Homo sapiens: one gene and its partner. The protein of the gene in region 1 purifies or fractionates together with the protein of each later gene. This does not show direct contact. Each region holds a gene or a part of one and is shown on either strand. Other genes may lie near its edges.

Region 1 (3,650 bases):
GTGACAGCACATTAATTACTTGATGAACGCTAAACATGAGCTGCTGCTATGCGCAGTACCTGGAGGCCCGGAACCTGCAACTTGAATGCCAACTCCTAAGGGAAGGATCCATGCAAAACAAAAACCTGGATGGAACTATGCACGTAATTAGCATCTGCTCTGAAATGGAGGTCAGCTCACACTTAGACACTTGTGAATGGGGTGTGTTTATGGTCTAACGTATGATAAGGGTGGCATTTGAGGAACTAAGAGTTGCTTGTCCCTTTCCTGATAAGGCCTGGGCAGGGAAGCTGCTAGTGATTAGACAGGACTTTTAGCTGACTGAGGTCTTCCTTTTGGACAACTGTTTAAAGCTGTAGGCTGGAGAGTTAGATGGTAAAGTAGCCTGTGGAAGCAGCCTTTGATGAAACCCGGAGGCTGTCAGCTCTTAAACCCTGTGGATTACGTGTAAGCTGAGTCATTCTTACAGTAAGCAGTCTCCTCCTTAGGAATCATCTCATTTTTCTCAGTCTGGGCAATCTCTAAAACAGAAAGGCAGGCTCTCTTTGGGGAGCTCTTTAAATGAATTCAGACCAGTAACACCTCTGATCTAGAAAGAAGCAGTTGATGGTGGGAAGGTGGTTACCAAGTAGCAACAAGGATTATTTCCATTTCAAGTTGTGTGTGTAGCACTTAATGCTGACACCTTGGAAAAAAATCAAGGCTTTTATGCCCTGCTTCCATCTGAAGATGTCTGTGTCCTGACCTTGTTAATATTTCCATTTGCAACCACGTCAGAGTATACCTTTCAACACTTGAACTTGTGTGGCATCCCTGCTGTAATATCTAGGCCAGTGTTTTGATTCTGTTTGCTGTTTTGCGGCCACAGCATTAGTTCTTCCAGCGTTATCTCTCCACCCACACTTGCCCAAGCATCCTATTTTCAAAGGTGGGAAAGAGCTTTCTGTTTGGAGTTGTCGTTGGTGGGTGTCTATGGATGGAGCCCAGTGATAACCATTCAGACTGTGTGTTGGCTTCTCACTTCTTAGTGGGAAGTGAGAATTCATGGAGGCCCCTTAAACAGCGGAGATCACAGCCTGGTTCTGTGGCCTGCCTGGGTTTCAGTCCAGGGCTGCTTTCCACAGCTCATGTGGGAATCTAACCACATTTTTTGACTCTAGTAAACATCATTGGTAAATGGCTGGAGGATGATAATAACCTTAAGAAAATAGAATGAGACGCTGGCTGAATGCAATGGAGCTGAGAGTGAGAAAAGACCAACTGTGGGGTTTGTTGCGTCACTGACTTAGAAATGTTTTCTCTGGGCACAGCTTTGTGGCCTGGGGCAGTTACTTCTTTGAACTCAGGTAGAATGTGTTGCGGGCATTTAAGTGGGCAACTGTAAAAATAACATCTTGGAAAAATAGTGAGCATAGGATATATTTTATTGGCCTTTTAAAAAGTAAAGCATTATTTTATCTGTTTTTATTGCTTCAGGCCATTCATAATCTAAGCTGCTATTCCATGTACATGAAACACTCGAGTGTCTGTTATCTGTAACTTTCATGTGTTTGGGGCTGTGGAGGAGTCTCCAGAATGTGGCCCCCTCCCTATGTGGGGGGTCTGGCCCTAGGGAGGAGCTGGCAGACAAAAGCCTTCCTTAGACTGCCTCCAAACCCTTCCTAGATAACTTCTGGCCTTCATCCCCCAAGGAATTCAAGGAGTAAGAGAGGAGGATTTTTTTCAGAAGGCCATATCCATGTTGACCCTGGTTTTTCTCGTTTCTGCCCGGTTATCTGCTGCTGCACATGCCAAGCAAAATGACCAAGGTCCATGGTCATTCGAAGCGCCTGGCTCTTTTCTTATGGGTGAAAGAATCTCAAGGGTCAAACTACATGCAGGTGGGGGAAGTGACGGTGTCCAGTCTCAGGTTCAGCATTCATGAGGTCCTGTGTACGTTCCAGACTTTCTGCTTTCAGTTTTGTTCCAGCTCTCCTTCCTGGGCTGGCCCTTTAAGTCCTGGTCACTGCCTGCAAATTTATCAGCCATTTCTCTGTAGCTCCAGTTGGGTTATTGGCTTCTTTGATCTGAGAAGGTTGCCGTCTCGACTGTAGCTAGTGTCCTGTTCTGTTGCTTCATCAGCCTATCAACACTCTGATCTCCCAGCCATCAGAGGAGTCTCAGTAATTGTTCCTTTATTCCATGAGCAAAGCAGCATGCCTTAGTTTTCTGGATCAGGATCAGCCCATTCCTGATAATCTCCCTCCTGTGCCATTAATTTTTCCTCTTATTACTAGTTCAGCAAGGCGACTGTGCAGCACCTTCCACTCTTGGGTTCTCTCTCTCTTCTGGACTTGGTTTCTCTAAAATCACCACTGTTCTGCAACGTAGCAAGCATCTTGGAGCTCCCTGGGAAGTTAGGATCCTAGGCCTTCATCTCCCAGCCATTGTTCCTTTAAAACAAACAGTAGCATAACGATTAGCATTTCTACACTTAATCACATTCAGTTCTGGTGGCTCCAGCCTGCAGTTTCTATGCTGACAGTTGTTAGATACTTCAGTTCTAAATGCTTCTCCCTTGCTTTCAGAATTTGCCATCTGGCCTTACCTCACTCAGGTGGCCTTAGCGGTCTAGCCAAACTTCTTTCCTACCATCTTATTTTTTAAAAATCTTTATACCTTCCTTCCTTTTCTTTCTACTTACTGTCATCTCCTTCCTCTGACCATCTAAGCACAACCAGCTCTTCTTCAAGCTCCCTGCCCCACCAAAGCTATCCACCTTTTAGGAAGACTCTTAAATTCCATTTCTGCTACTCACCAGCAGTGCATCCTTGGACAGTTTACAATTTGCACATCCTCTTTGTTCTCCAGTTTTCCCATCTGTAAGTGGGGGAGTAGGAGGAATGGTATCTCTTTTATGGGTTGTTATAGAAATCAAATGATTGATCCAGGTAGAGCCCTGAAAGCACTGTTTTACTGCCTATTTGTGATGTTGTAAAAGAGTTGGTGGCTCATTAGGGTACCTGGCTAAACATCTAGTCACATGTGGTGTCCCCTGGCCATGGCTGTGGCTGCCGCCATGTGAAGAGCCCTTGGAGGGCTCTGCATGTATTAGCACCTGCCAGAGAAAAGGATGTGGGCAGAAGCAGACGTTTATGTTATGAAACAATGTGCTCCCCCGCTGATAAGTGGGATTTCCCACACACTATGGCAATATATTGTCTTCCTTGGTGTCTCTGTGGCAGGGGGCACCTCTAAGCCACCTGGCATCTTTTGCTTAACTGGAATCTGCACAAAAGCAGAGAGTAAAGGCTGATTCCAGCTTTTTGCTATCTTTGGTGTGTATGGTGGGGACGGGGCAATGGAAAGACTAGGTCTCACGGTTACATAGTGAACAGAAGGTTGCTGTGTCCTTTTTTGTTAGGACCAATAACGTCTGTTTTAGAAAAGATCACTTTAATGGCTATGAGAACTGGTGATCCCAGTGCACATGTGGGTTGTGACATGTGCTTGTCACTCCGTGTCCACCTCCCATCCACCATGGCAGACCTTGAGCTTGGTGGAAGGGAGTCAGCAGTTCCCAGACACTAGTCTCGCAGTTGAGGACCTGGGGTCAATTCGCTTAATCTTTTCTGAACCTTATTACTTAATTTGTGAAAAAGGGATAGTTG
Region 2 (3,650 bases), on another chromosome or scaffold:
TGTGTGGAGACCTCCAGGCCGTGCAGCACCTTGGTGGCCACAGCTCTCCAGGATGTCCTCACCTTCCTCAGGGCCCTGCCCTCCTGACCTGGAGTGTTCTGGGTAGGAGTCTGCCGGGGCTGCTCCCAGGACAGGGACAGGGGAGGCTGTGAGGGCCATGCCGCTGCAGTGGGTCTTGCTGGCTGCCACCTGTGTCACAGGCCCTGTTAGCTGGGTGGAGCCTTCCAGAGCCAGGACCCCAGGGCACTCTCAAACTCTGGGCAGCTGCCAGAGGCTCAGGTGCTTGGCAGACACTGTCTACCCCTCAGGGAAGAGCCTTGGTGGTGAGCCTGGCCTGCTTCCAGGAGCAGAGTAGGGACACTTTGGCCACTTCCCCCTGGGGCCTGGCTCTGGCGTTTCCAAGACTGCTTCTCTGGCAGCCAGCTGTCTCCCTGTGTTCTCTTTAGAAAGCTCCTCCTGAGCTTGGATAAACTGCAGGAGCGAAGGGGCTGACCGTTTGTCGGGACGCAGTTGAAAGAGTCGCTGTGTCCTGCTCCGGGCTCTCCTGCTGGAGAGGAGAGGCTTGCACGTGCCTGTCGTCTGCGCAAGCTTTGAAGCTCAGACTTGGTCTCTGTTAGGAGAGATGGTGCGCTGCGTCCGGCAGGTCCTCCCATGCTTGGGAATGCGGGAAGCGGGGAAATGAGGAGGTGGGCTCGGACGTGTGGGGGGCTGTGCTGGCTGTCCTGGGAGGCTCTCTGCCCGCTGTTAGTGGCCAGCTCCCCAGGTGACGGGCCTGGCCTCCAGGTCTCCAGCATGGCTTACTGTGGTGTCTCCTGAGGGCTTCCTCTCTGCAGGGAAGCCCACCCAAGATCCCTCTTACTGGTCCCATGGGGCAGCTGCCTCCGTAGCATCCTCGTCTCCACCAGACCCCTGCAGGGTGCCCAGTTCCTCCCTGCAGGGTGCTCCCTGCTGCAGTGTGGGGTGCACAGAGGTGGGCAGGGCCCTGGGGCCGGAGCTCCCGTTGGTGAAGGAAGACGGATCCCAGCCAGGGCTCTCGGGTTGATCAGCAGTAGGAGGTGGCCCCTCCTGCCCAGTCCCACCCAGGACATGGGCTGGTGGCTGGGCTTTCAGCTGTGCCCAGCTGCCCTTCGCAGAGCTTGCAGGGTTTATGAGGTGGCTCTGGTGAGATTAGGGGCAGGACACCTAGTGTCTCCAGCCGAGGAGTGAACTGGGTGGAGGTCCTGTCCTTGTGTGCACATTGTGGGAGAGTCAGTCTGGGAGGCCTTTGTAGCTTGTGCTGGGGCCCTTGGGTGCCAGCCCTGTCTTGACGGTGGCTCCTGCTGAGAGAGAGGCCCTGTATTAATGTGAGCCCTGGGCTGCCTCCCCCTTGAGGGTCCTTGTCATCTTCCGGGCCTCCTTCAGCAGACCGGACACAGGGGCAGTGCAGGTGAGGGGCTTGGGGGAGCTCCTTGGCAGCTCCAGGGGATGCTTGTGGGCGCTGGCTTATCTTGTCTCAGGCTACCTTGCTCAGGTGACGACAGGGTGGGTGGATTTGGGAAAGGTTGGCTCAGATAGTGGTCCCTGCTTGTCCCCCAGGGCCTGCCTAGGCTCCAACTGACAGTAATCCCAAGAGCTCCCCTTTCAGGGGATGACGGAGTGACGTCACCTGTGTGGACTCAGCTGCCACCTGGGATTGTGGTGGCGGCGGGTCTGTCTGGCGCTCAGCTTCCATCTCCACCAGTGTCACCTCCACACCACCTCGCCAAGCAGCTTCTGGAAAGGCCCCCGGCCGCCCCGGGCTGACCTGCTGCTGTGTCTGACCCGGTTAGTCTTTCTGGCTGCCTCTAACCTTGCTGCTTTTCCTTCATGCTGTCCTAGGAGGCCAAAGCAAAGTAAGTACTCGCCTGTCCTCATGCCCCATTCCCCTTCATTTGACCGGGGAACCCCCAGCCCTCGCTGCACCTGAGGGAACCCAGCACCACCTGCGCATGGCCCAGTCTGCCCAGAGGGCCTCAGTTTCCCATCTGGAAAGTGGAGGAATTGGGTTTTCTGGATGGGGCAGCAGCAGGTGGGCACCCTGTGTGGCCGTGAGCAGGGTCCTGTCCTGGGCTGGCGGGTCAGCAGCTGACATGCGGCTCCCTGCAGGGAACAGGTGGCAGTGCCAGGTCTCGGTAGGAGCCTTGAAGTGGCTTCCCCTCCCTGAGCGGCGGCTTCTGCCCGGAGCCCCCAAGAACATAGTCTGAGGCCACTTTGGCCAATAAAGTCTGGTAGGGCATCAACACTGGGGGCCAGCTCAGTGGCACTGCTGATGGGACCTGCACGGCTCCATGGGAGCAGAGAGACTGGTGGGGGTACCACCGCACGATGTCACAATGCCCTGTCTCCTGGGCTCTTGCTCCCACCCCACCCCCAACCCACAACCCCTGCCTCTGCCCATCAGCCTGGCCTTGGTAAGTGCTGCCCCAGCCTGGGGAAGGAATGAGCAGGGGAGCCTAGGGAGCGTCTTCATGGGCCCTGTGGCCTCCCATGGGCCCCGGTTCCTCGTTGGTGCCATTAGAACTTGTTGCTGGGACTGCGGGATTCGGGCCACATGCCCGCAAAGAACTCCATGTTCCACTTAGAGGCTGCAGAGTGCAGTGCCAGGGGTGCCTTCCCAAAAGTCCTCCCTGCCTGGGTGGAGCGTAGACAGCTCAGCACCCCACGGGGGGCGTTGGAGCCAGCCTTGGTTTTGTTGGGTAAGGATGTTAGAAGAGGGGCGAAGACCCATAGCCACTGGTGTGAAGGGTCTGCTCTTGACCGAAGGCTGCCTCCCTCTGGGTGCAGACCAGGCAGGTGGTCCCAGTCACGGTGCCCTGGGGCCACTGGGTCTGTCTGCCCTCAGGCTCCACTAGACACACCTGCGGAGGCAGCAGACTAGCAGCGGTGTCTGTGAGGGGCAGCTGCACAGCCCCCTCTTGAGGGTGCTCCTAGGCGTTGGTTAGGCCCAGGCGTTTCTGCTTTTGGGGAGCAGAGCCTGGAGTCGGGCATGGCTGGGGAGGAAGCTATCGCAGGCTGAGCGCGGGCTGGGGTGCTGACCTGCATCCCAAGAGCAGATTTGCCCCTGGCCTTCTGGGCCTGTCCTTTCTGTAACACCACACTGGACACCTGGGAGCAGAGCGTGCCCCCGGCAGGATCCCACATGGCTGCTGGAGCACTGGGGCAGCAGGTGACTGAGGTCGCCCAGAGCTTGAGGGAACACCTCATCCAGGGAGGAGGCTGAGGCTCCCAGGCCACAGTAGCAAGTGGGGAGTGGAGCCTCACAACCTGCCTCCCACCAAGATGGTCCCTCTTAACATTACACAGAAGCAAAACCTTAGAGGGGGCCCTGATGTCCTGGGACTGTGAGAGCCCCATGATTCCCCTTTAGCTTGGATGGACCCAAAGGTATGGACTCCAGCTGGGAGGCGGGGGCAGCTGATAGAGAGCCTAGAGCCGTCTCAGTGCTCCAGGCGCTTGGCCCCTCCTTTCTACACAGTGGTCACCAGCATCCTCCCTGGCGTCTCCTTCATGAGTGGGCACTCCACCCTCTGCCCGGCCACCTGGCCCCCTCCTGGGGAGGACAGTCAGGCCCACAAAGAAGCTCCCTCTTTTTTTTTCTTTTCCCCTGCTCTGTTGTCCAGGCTGGAGTGCAG

The links. The genes of interacting proteins can lie anywhere in the genome.
Region 2: the proteins of TENT5C (region 1) and EEF1D purify together in Homo sapiens (affinity purification with mass spectrometry, with the first as the bait; 2 studies listed by BioGRID). This does not show direct contact.

Annotation. Positions count from the first base shown.
Region 1 is NC_000001.11:117,612,547-117,616,196, forward strand, and holds part of TENT5C (terminal nucleotidyltransferase 5C), read left to right. Parts: intron 1-3,650. UniProt on the Homo sapiens protein: Catalyzes the transfer of one adenosine molecule from an ATP to an mRNA poly(A) tail bearing a 3'-OH terminal group and enhances mRNA stability and gene expression.
Region 2 is NC_000008.11:143,590,868-143,594,517, reverse strand, and holds part of EEF1D (elongation factor 1-delta), read left to right. Parts: exon of another isoform or gene 1-622; coding exon of another isoform or gene 623-625; exon of another isoform or gene 626-1,857; 5' UTR 1,858-1,871; exon of another isoform or gene 1,872-2,306; coding exon of another isoform or gene 2,307-2,429; exon of another isoform or gene 2,430-3,650.